Homo sapiens: one gene and its partners. The protein of the gene in region 2 purifies or fractionates together with the protein of the main gene of each other region. This does not show direct contact. Each region holds a gene or a part of one and is shown on either strand. Other genes may lie near its edges. The genes, in order: CIBAR1, PER2 and REXO5.

Region 1 (3,650 bases), on a different chromosome or scaffold from region 2:
CTTGAGTAGGAAATGCTTTGGATTAAAATACTAAGATACAACTCCATGAATACAGATATCAGTATATTAAATGGAATTAATTAAGAGTTCAAAATGATTTTTAAAAGGGTAAGCCAGATTGGTATTTCTCACACTGCATTATAGGAAGCTTGTTCAGGAGTCACCTGGAGCCCTACTTGGGGGGTGAGCAGGCAGAGCCATGGGATTCTTCTTTTCCCTATCCTCTCTATCAGAGGGACTCCATTTTATCTTACATATCAAACTTAAACATACTTCTACATAGATGAATTTTAAGAGTTTATCCTGGGAAATATGCCATAATACTATGATCGAATATTTGTATATTTATATTGACTACATTTGTATGTAGATTGTCCTTCATGTTTTGGTCTCAGGTTGTCAAAATACACAAGTTGCAGATCTTACCCAGTGAGCACACTGACTCACCTGTGGCAGTAATCTCTTAGGTTATATTTATTTCCTCACCATGTGAACCCAAAGACCTGCTTCATCTGTGCTCTAAGATTATCTCCCTTCCACAGCAGTGTTTACAGCACAGCATCCAAGTCAGAAAAATGTTTGTCTTAGGAATAGATTCATTTCTGTGTTTACTGTAGACACCAGTACTCCTGATTCAATCTTGCCAACTACTCAGGATTCCAGATGTCTTCATGTATCACCACCTCCCCAACTCCAGGCCACAAAGAACAAAACAAAACAAAAAATTTTCATCCCTAGCTTAATTCTTAAACACTGGTGAACCCCCCCACCCACCCTGCCCCATAGCCTCTGCCTTGATCTCTAGTTATCAGTCATAAATTTTCCAGCATTCTCTGGTTTGTCTGACTTGCTTAAAACACAGATTCTATAATCTCCATTTGCGGATCTTATGCCACTATGACTATCTAGATATTTCTGTCCCAGTCTCCAGTGGGCACTCCCAGCCCTATGGCTGCCCATTTTTGTTTAGTACAAAGTTGGGCTTCTGTACCTTTGGTCCAAAGGAAGAAGGACCAAGCAACTGGCGCAGCCCCAAATCGCTGCTCAAGAGACTCCCCTCAGGAATGGAGGTGTTCTGGAACCTCAAATGCTCTCAAAGAGCCACTCCTCATGTGGTTTCTGGCTGAGCTGGGCAGTAACAACCTTAAGGAAGCAGGAAGGAGACATATAGAAGAAGGAATGGGAAAAAGAGGCAGTAGGGATGTTAGTGCTTTCTTTCTCTTTTTCTTTTTTTTTTTTTGAGATAGTCTCGCTTTGTTTTCCAGGCTGGAGTGCAGTGGTGTGATCTCAGCTCACCACAACCTCCATCTCCCACGTTCAAGCGATTCTCTTGCCTCAGCCTCCCAAGTAGCTGGGACTACAGGTGTGTACTACCATGCCTGGCTAATTTTTGTATTTTTAGTAAAGACAGGGTTTCACTATGTTGGCCAGGCTGGTCTCGAACTCCTGACCTCATGATCTGCCTGCCTCGGCCTCCCAAAGTGCTGGAATTACAGGCACGAGCCAACACGCCCAGCCAGATGTTAGTGCTTTCTACACAGTCCTACCCATCTCAGTTGCTGGCAATTAGGCACTATTTTGTATGCTTTTGTTTACTCACGAACAAGGCACATTGTAGTTTAAGAAAGTCATGTTTAACAGAAGAACCTTGTTATAGTAGACAGTCCTTTCTAGGTTTGTGTCCAACTTGGATCTTAATTATACTCTTAAGACTCCTGAGGTTAACTGGCTGGAAGTCATGATGTCACATAGTTGTTTTATTTCTAAAAGATGAAGGAAATTAAATGGGAAAATTTTCTTTCCTTTTCTCAAAGCAGGGCATAGAGGACACTGATATATTAGGATTAACAATAGATCTTTAATTGTAGAATTAATATTTAGTCATCACCATGTGAAAATAAAATTCAGAAATTTGAATTTACTGTTTATAAAAACATCTGAATTTTTTGTTTGTTCGTTTGCAAAGTCTACTGTGTAAAACAATATAAGGGGATTTGAATTAGGTGGCGTAACCTCTTTAAAATTTCTATAGTGAGAATTCCTAAATGCATTTCTTTTCAATCTTTATATTCAAATTCTCTACTCGTTTAAAAGTAAAAATGCACAATTTCTATATACATTTACTTTTGTACTCCATACCTTAAACATTTTTTTAAAGACCCAAATTCAAAGGATACAATAACATGTCGATCAGATGGGTTTCGCTGACGTGTTCTTTCTAACTGAGTTAATTGCTTAGCTTCTCGATTCCTTGCTGTGAGTGTTGCTTTGAGGTCATCCTGCAAATTGGCATTTTTTTGTTAGTAAAAATGTCTGACTTAAGAAAATTCAGTTTTAAGAATGGAAGAATTCTTTTAAGAATTGTTTTAAGAATGGAAGAATACTTCTTGTGTGATCCTGGTACCATTACCACAGGAATTACAAGTATTACATAATTAGTGTCTATGTATGTGAGAATGTGTTTAATATTCTCTCAAAATAATGACACAATTTCAGTGCAAAACTATTAACCATAATAGATATATGCATATAAATGTGTAATTTTGATTGCGGTAGTGGTTACATGGGTATAAACATTTGTCCAAAACTCAATGATCACTTAAAATGGAAGAATTTTATCGCACATAAATCAAGGGCTCCCAACCCCCAGGCCTATTAGGAACTGGGCCAGCACAGCAGGTGAGTGGTGGGCGAGCTAGCATTAAGGCCTGAGCTCTGCCTCTTGTTAGATCAGAGGCAGCATCAGATTCTCATAGGAGTGCAAACCCTATTGTGAACTAAAGAAAAATTGTCTTCCACAAAACCGGTCCCTGGTGCCAAAATGGTTGGGGACTGCTGATGTAAATTATCAATAAAGTAACTTTTAAAAATAGAACTCTCTCACACATTTTAAAAGTCTAAATGCTATCGCTTTAAAGAAAAACTTATATTCATATAGTAAAGCAATTTCTGTCCATATATTTTTCATAATTATTTTAAAGTTTCCATAATAATGTCTATATTGCTACAGTATACTTAATAAGCTCATTAAAACTATTTCATTATTCTTAAAGATCTAAGTGATCTTTCAGAGTAAAAAGAATGACTATATACTACTTTGTATTTCTTTTCTTTTTTTTTTTTTGAGACAGAGTCTCACACTGTCGCCTGTGCTGGAGTGCAGTGGCGCTATCTCAGCTCACTGCAACCTCTGCCTCCTGGGTTCAAGCGATTTTCTTGCCTCGGCCTCCTGAGTAGCTGGGATTACAGGTGCATGCCACCATGCCCAGCTAATTTTTTTTATTTTTAGTAGAGACGGGGTTTCACTATGTTGGCCAGGCTGGTCTCAAACTCCTGACCTCGTGATCCGCCCGCCTCGACCTCCCAAAGTGTTGGGATTACAGGCATGAGCCACCACTCTTGGCCACTACTTTGTATTTCTTATTTAAAAAAACAATTGGAAACCTCATAGTCTTTGCCAGAGTAACTCACAGTTAAGTGAGAAAATGGATTTACTTACCCGTTTCATTTTCACAATGGTCCCATAAGTTTTCAAGGGTTCAACTACTTTGGCTTCAAGTCTTTCAACCTATTGAAAATTATTAAAATTTTAAATTAGAACGTTTAACATTTTAACCTATAAATAAAAGGCTAATCACTAGAAATTGATA
Region 2 (3,650 bases):
ATGCTAATATGATAAGTGGTAATACAAAGTTCTATTTGTTAAATAAATACACTAAAAAGCTGTCATGTCTCTGCTGTTCCCCAGTATTTGGGGGAAAAATTGGTTAGTGAAATCTGAACGGGAGAGCCACTGACCTCCTCTATTTTTCAATTTATAAGCACTGTCACTACTGTTCCTTAAAGAGGGATGTTTCCTCTTTCACCTGTCAAACAGCCTGAGCAAGATCAGAGGGGAGCATTGCCTTGCAACCAAATTCTTCCTCTGCAATAACGAGTGCTGCTGAGTAAGGCATTCTTCAGGAAGATGGAGGGACTCAATTGGTAAAGGAGGGACTCTGGGTATGTCCCCATGGCCTCCCTGGGGAGTGGGAGGGGGATCCAGGGAACTTTGGTTTTCCTCTCACATCACGCGGAGTGACTTGGGGCTCTTGCAGCAGGTGTCTGGGACATCTGTCAGCTGTGCCAAGGCAGTCCCATGCCTTTGGGATGTGCTGAAGGGAAATGGGCTAGTCCAAGGCAAACTCCTATGTAAATGGAGGTTTTGCAATTCAGCCTCTCTATCTGGTGTTCTTCTCACAAGAAATCTGTCCCCTGGTGGGAACAGTGGCTAAAGCACTGGGCTCCTGGGATGTCATGTCTGGGTCTGGCAGGGCTGCCCTAGGCAGCTCTGTAGTCTGTGCACTGCATAAGGCTACAGAGTTGTCTAGGGGGCAAGCAAGAGCGGGAACTCTGCACTAGGCTGGTCCCATGGGGTGGGTCTGCTCATGGCCATGGAGTACACCTTTTTCTAATTTCTACAGAGGTTCTCTATGGGCTGGCAGTAACTCTTGAATCTGGGGAAGAAGGAGAGAAAGGAAAGAGTGGAGAAGACATAATCCTCAAGGAAGCTGTGGGCTTAATTTCTTACAAATTTCCCTTGGTGCGTCTGCCCAGAGACCCGGGGGAGCTGGGTCCTTGTGGTGAGTGGCTTCCTGGGCTCACTGGCTCTGATCCCTGTGCCAGCGTCCCAGGGGGAAGGGAAGAGGCCCCATCTCTAACAAGTGTCTGGGGGTATGGGAAGGAACTGGGGGATCAGGAGCCAGACTTCTGGGCCAGGAAAGGGGTGAAGAAGCTCATCTATTTTACTTCATCCCTTGACCTTCAACCCCCCAAGTGGCACCTGGCCTACACAGCAGCTTCCCACACCATGACCATGGACTCTGCCTGACTCTGGAGTCCAAAGCCCAGCCCTGAGGCTGGCCCAGTCAGGAGGGTGCATCTCCTGGGGAGAAGGGCACCAGAAATGGTACATCCCTCCTTCCTCATGTGCCCAGCACTACATGCCCACTATCTTGAGGTTGAATTCGCTGATTCTCTGGAGGTCCCGTCCAGGTGGGGCCCCTGCCCACATGGTTACTCAGGCAAGAAATGTGGACATGGCAGCACTGCCCTGCCATGGTTCTTCCCACCTCGGGCACTAGCCTGGGACTATTCCCCAGGGAATGCAAGCTGACATCCCGAGAGCACCCCCCCGGTGGGAAGTTCTACAGAAACAGATGGCGTTGCCAGGGAAGTTCCAACAGCTGTCTTATATGTTAATGCTTCTGAAACTGGACACATTTCACATTTTGAAACCAGCACTGGACTCAGTACCAACAGGAATAAAGTTTTTTAAAACGCACTTTTAATTCGGGTATCACTTACTTCGTTCACTTGGCTGCCCCTTGGATCTTTCTTGCAAGTAGTAATGGCAGTGGGACTGGAAAATGCTGAGTTTTCTTATTTCTTTGAACTTCTGCAGGAAGCTCTGCTCCTCCTTCTGTGTGTGTGCAGCGAGTACCTCCTTGGTGAGGCCCAGCTTCTTGAAGGGCTCCTTCTCTTGGCTGAGACCACAGGCCAGGGCAGGGCCCGCCAGGCAGTCCAGGGATTCTGGCCCACTCGCAGCATCTTCCACCATCTCTGTAACACAAGAACCCAGGGCTCTGGTCCACACGTGCCCTGTTTATTATTTTAAGGCCACACTATATTCACGAACAAGACAAATCATTCACGTATAAAGTAATTTCATGATGCCTGTGGCATGAGGATGAGACTCACAGCGTTTTCATTTAGCTTTCTGAGAAAGTTCATGGCAAAAGGCAAGAAGCAGAGCAGGACAGCCCTGACAGCCAGGTGCTCAGGAACCTGGGGCTGAACAAACGGAAACGTGGGGAACCTTGGGCTTCAGCTCTGCTGCTGAAGATATCCCTCGGCTGTCCTTAGCTTTCAGAACACCAGAAACTTGGATCAACGTGCTGAGTCTTTCCGGGTTTGGGACCAGGCATGGTGATAGATGGGACCCTATGGGCCCATGGGGCAGACAGGACAAGGGACAGGCAGGGCCACTGACCATCCTGAAAGGGAGGGCTTGGGGACTGGATCTTGGACATACACTTTTTCCTTATCATTTCCCTCTTCTTAGTAAAGAACAAATTCAGGATTCATTTTAATCATAATATTCTAAAGAACAAGAACACTCAGCCACCAATGCGCTCATTGTAAATCTGTTTACCACCTGTACTGGCTCCTGTCCACAAACAGGGAGAGCTAACGGTCGCACCTTCTGCTGGGCAGAGGAAAGAACCCCAGGCCTGCCCAGGGAAGAGGGAGGTGGGGCCTCGCTCCCAGTGCTCTCCGCACCAATTAAAGGGGATAAGATCTTGCACCACAATCAACCCTCCTGCGTTGATGCCAGAACAGACAACTGCCACTGGAGGGCACCACAGGGCAGCAGAGACCTGGACAGGTTGCTGCCTGGGCCCTGGCTGGCCGCACTCCACCCTGCATTTTACGTAACTGGATTTCCTGAAACGCCCCCTATCGGGCTATGGTGGAGTTCTTCTGCACTTAGAAAAATTTAAGATGGCAAACTTCTTGTTTTCATGGTTAAAAATCAAACTGCTCTCTGATCCAAGAGCCCATAGTCATACCTAACTCCGGCTGCGGCTTCTTGTCTCCCACATGGACGATGGTGCTGCTGTAGCTGCACTGGCTGGTGAGCGACGCCACACTCTCTGCCTTGCCCGGCAGTGCCAGCGAGGTCAGGTGCGTACCTACTCCCGTGCGGCTGTTCACCCTGGAGGGCGGCTCTGCCTCTTCATGAGAGGAAGGGGGAACAAACATTAGTGTGTCATTACAATGCACTGTGCAGATGAGAAACCGACACCCAAGTGCCCATACAGCTTCCACACCAGGGTGCACACAACCCATCCCATCCCATCCCACAGATGCTCTGGCCCAGGCATGGGGTGATTTGTCCCCAATGTTTATTCATAGAAGAATAGTGGAAAAGAGAAAGTTCTGAAATGGGAGCAGTTACACACTTAAATCCTGAGGCCTCTGCAGGGAGGCGCAGCAGCTTGGCAGCTGCAGGGCACACTTGGTGAGGGGCTCTTGCCTGCAGCCAGGCAGCCCTTCTGCAGGCCTGTGGGGAGGGGCTTTCCGACAGTCAGGAGCCAACCATAATCCGGGATACCCTGTTTCTTTCTTTTTTCTTTTTTGAGATGGAGTCTCGCTCTGTCACCCAGGCTGGAGTGCAGTGATGCAATCTTGGCTCACTGCAACCTCCGCCTGCCAGGTACAAGCCATTCTCCTGCCTCAGCCTCCCAAGTAGCTGGGATTACAGGCATGCAC
Region 3 (3,750 bases), on a different chromosome or scaffold from region 2:
CTTCAACCTGGGAGGCAAAAGTTGCAGTGAGCCAAATCCAGCCTGGGCAACAGAGGGAGACTCCACCTCAAAAAAAAAAAAAAAAAAAAAAATCACATCCCTAATCCCTCTCTCACATATTATAACTTATTTTTATCATTTGTCTCTGCCCACTAGAATATAAGACCTACTAGGGCAGTGAACTTGATTCACTGATGTACCCCAAGCACCTAGGTCAGTGCCCCAGCACATGGCAGACAATAAAAACCAATGAATAGCTGGGTGCAGTGGCTCATGCCTGTAAGAGGCAGAGACAGGAGGATCCTTGTCACACCACTGTAGTCCAGCCTGAGTCCAGCAGAGCAGAGACCCTGTCTCAAACACAAAAACAAACAAAAAAGCCCAATGAACGACTGAAGGGATGAATGAAGTATATTTAGTTCTCAGTAAATGGTAAGGATGATAGGGATAATCAGCCTTTTTATTCCCCTATTGCAGCGGTCCCCAACCGTTGGCACCAGGGACCGGTTTCGTGTTAGATAATCTTTCCACTGACTGGGAGAAGGGCTGGGGGGATGGTTTCGGGGTGATTCAAGTGCATTACATTTATCATTAGAGTCTCATAAGCAGCATGCCACCTAGGACCCTCGTATGCAAAGTTCACAATAGGGCTCACAATAGGTTTGGCACATTCCTATGAGAATCTAATGCCTAGGTGGAGCTCAGGGGGTAACGTTCTATCGGCCACCGCTCACCTCCTGCTGCTTTGTGGCCCGGTTCCTAACAGGCCAGCTGTGGACAGTGGGTTGGGGACCCCATGGACAGGCAGGTACTAGTCTGTGCACAGGGGGTTGGGGACCCCCGCCCTACTGGAATGTAAACTGCACGAGGGCAAGGAATTGTATTTTTGTGCCCCAGGATATCGATGAACATTCCTATTATGTACAGGCAGTTTTTTTTTTGTTTTGTTTTTTGTTTTTTTTTTTTAAGAGATGGGGTCCTTGCTATATTGCCCAGGCTGGTCTTGAATTCCTGGCCTCAAATGATGCTCCCGCCTTGGCCTCCCAAACTGCTGGGATTACAGGCGTGAGCCACTGCACCCGGCCCACCATCCCAGTTTTTTTTTTTTTTTTTTTTTTTCTGAGACGTGATTTCTTTCTTGTTGTCCAGGGTGGAGTGTAATGGCGTGGTCTTGGCTCATTGCAACCTCTGGTTCCTGGGTTCTAGCGATTCTCCTGCCTCAGCCTCCCAAGTAGGTGGGATTACAGTCACCCACTACCACGCCTGGCTAATTTTGTGTGTGTGTTTTTGGTAGAGACGGGGATTTCTCCATGTTGACAAGGCTGGTCTCGAACTCCTGACCTCGTGATCCGCCCGCCTCGGCCTCCCAAAGTGCTGGAATTACAGGCATGAGCCACCGCACTCGGCCGACTCACTATCCCAGTGACAGCCAATGACAGCCTTGTTGCAGGAAGGTGGTATTACACTCATTCCCATTTTAATGATCAGGGATCAGGTTCGGAGAGGCCAGGGCGGAGAGCCCGCCCGAATCCAGTGCCCCCGACGGCGGTTGGGCGAGGGTCCGGGAGCTCCAAACCGCCTAGGGCCGCCTGCTCGGGATCCCCGTTGCTCACCTTGGCCTCGGGCTGACTCTCCTCGAGATCCCAACCGGCTTTCATCGCCTCAGCTGCCCCGACCAGCTTATTTGGGGCCTGCCTGCTTTCCCTGACCTTCCTGGGGTGTCTCTCGGTCCCTTCCCTCTCTGGCTCCATGGCTGTGGAGAAAGATGAGGTAGAGCTGGGGAAACTCCAGCGCCCCTATTCCCCCGCGTGCCGCCTCCTAGCGGGAGAGCTACACGGGCTTGACAGCTTTCAACCTCCCTCGGATCCGCTTCTCAATTCAGTTTACCGAACTATCCCCGTTCCCCTAAAAAAGCGAAGGTGCCAACGATCTCCCCGTTCCGCGGACTGGACACCCGCGCCGCTCTAACCCAAACGGCTTTACCGTCCGCATCGGTTACCGGATTCTCAACGGTTCCCCAACGGCTACAACGGGCGTCTGCCTGGCAAAGAAGGAAGGTGCTGCCGAGCGGCTTCGCCGCCTAAAACCACTCCCCACGCCCCCTAGCCCGGGAAACGCAGAAGAGAAGACGGGCGGGGAGCAGAGGTTCTCCCCTCCTTAGCCACAGCTGCCAACAACAACCGCCCCTCAGCCTCGCGGGCTTTTTGAACGGACCGGAAGTAGAAGTCGAGCGACTTCCGGCAGCTGGACTTGGAAAAGCAAGGAGTGTCGGGAATGGCGACCAAGCGGCTCGCGCGGTACTCGAGGGAGTTCCGGGTCGGGGGCGGGTAGCTCCGGGTCCAGCGCTGGCGTTGGCCGCAGAGCAGGGCACGGCAGGTGGCATCTGCGGTGAGGGCCTCTATTCCCCGCAGCCCCGGCGTCTGCGACCTGCCCTCTCTGGCACGGTTGGAAAGGCGCCTCCCTGGACCTCGGTCTTCAGCCTTGGGCCACCTTCTACCCGAGGGTGACAGGAGCCCGAGGCGGACGAACCCTGGGGCCTTGACTGTGTGGCCTTGAGCCAGTGCCTGCCTATTTTAGGCCTTGGGAAACGACTGGACGTGACAGTGCCCTGCAGACTGGTTGGAGGTCTCAGGCAGGCCACACACTGAATCTGTCAAGGTGTTCAACCTGTTCGAAATGCTCGTTCCTCGGTGCTGTAAAGAAATAGAACTTAAACTTAAATTTAATTTATTTAGTAAGGCCATTTTTACTTCCTGCAGAAAGGGTACACTCGCCAGCAGTTTTGCCAGGAGAGTACACTGAACAAAGGAGACAGGGTCATTTATAACGTGGCGCGTCCACCCTACTGCTGTGTCCGGTTTCCTTTGGCTGGAACGGGACCTCACATTCTGTATTTGTCCCGACTGACTAGCAACATAGAACTTTTTAAAAGAGGCAAAGGCAGAGGAGAACAAAGGAAGAAGGAAGTAACTTGTGGAATGCTGAGAAAGGTAAAAACACTTTTAAGTAAGGAAGAGGAACAGGCTATGACCTAATGTTTGATTGGACCAGTATAAGCATGCCAGGGCAAATATTTAGGCTAAATTGTGGGAGCTAAGAACATAAAGTACATTGATTTCTTTATTATATCTAGCAGATATTTAAGAATGTTAGCACAGGTCTTTGAATAAATTTTGCTCTAAGAGAAGTTACTATTTATTCCTAATTAGACGGGGAAGGAAGTCTTTGAAGAGGAACCTCTACTTTTTACAAACCCATTTTCTAGTGATCTTTTTTTTTTTTTTTGAGACGGAGTTTTGTTGCCTAGGCTAGAGTGCAGTGGTGCGATCTCGGCTTACCATAACCTCTGCCTCCCGGGTTCAAGTCATTCTCCTGCCTCAGCCTCCCAAGTAGCTGGGATTACAGGCATGCACCACCACACCCAGCTAATTTTGTATTTTTAGTAGAAATGGGGTTTCTCTATGTTGGTCAGACTGTTCTCGAACTCCCGACCTCAGGTGATCCACCCGCCTCAACCTCCCAAAGTGCTGGGGTTACAGGTGTGAGCCACGGTGCCTGGCCTAGTGATCCTTTTAATTCACAATATGAATTATTGTGTCCTCCCTGATTCCTGGATGCGCTGTGCATATTTCTGATTACTAGAAAGATGTAATATAATAGCAAATAGCATGAGCTTCAGAATTGGACAGTCTTGGGTTCACATACCAAAGCTATGTTCTTTGGCAAATTAAGAATCAGTTTTCTCATCCA

The links.
Region 1: the proteins of PER2 (region 2) and CIBAR1 purify together in Homo sapiens (affinity purification with mass spectrometry; one large-scale study listed by BioGRID and IntAct). This does not show direct contact.
Region 3: the proteins of PER2 (region 2) and REXO5 purify together in Homo sapiens (affinity purification with mass spectrometry; one large-scale study listed by BioGRID and IntAct). This does not show direct contact.

What each region holds. Positions count from the first base shown.
Region 1 is NC_000008.11:93,703,538-93,707,187, reverse strand, and holds part of CIBAR1 (CBY1-interacting BAR domain-containing protein 1), read right to left. Parts: intron 3,569-3,650; coding exon 3,500-3,568; intron 2,280-3,499; coding exon 2,178-2,279; coding exon of another isoform or gene 2,140-2,177; intron 1,764-2,139; coding exon of another isoform or gene 1,745-1,763; exon of another isoform or gene 1,153-1,744; intron 1,144-1,152; exon of another isoform or gene 992-1,143; intron 692-991; exon of another isoform or gene 2-691; intron 1-1. UniProt on the Homo sapiens protein: Plays a critical role in regulating mitochondrial ultrastructure and function by maintaining the integrity of mitochondrial morphology, particularly the organization of cristae.
Region 2 is NC_000002.12:238,253,975-238,257,624, forward strand, and holds part of PER2 (period circadian protein homolog 2), read right to left. Parts: intron 3,113-3,650; coding exon 2,948-3,112; intron 1,938-2,947; coding exon 1,683-1,937; intron 1-1,682. UniProt on the Homo sapiens protein: Transcriptional repressor which forms a core component of the circadian clock.
Region 3 is NC_000016.10:20,804,955-20,808,704, reverse strand, and holds the start of REXO5 (RNA exonuclease 5), read right to left. Parts: upstream 2,179-3,750; 5' UTR 2,000-2,178; exon of another isoform or gene 1,860-1,999; intron 1,754-1,859; 5' UTR 1,752-1,753; coding exon 1,614-1,751; intron 1-1,613. Other genes in the region: ERI2 (ERI1 exoribonuclease 2), read left to right, coding at 2,275-2,297.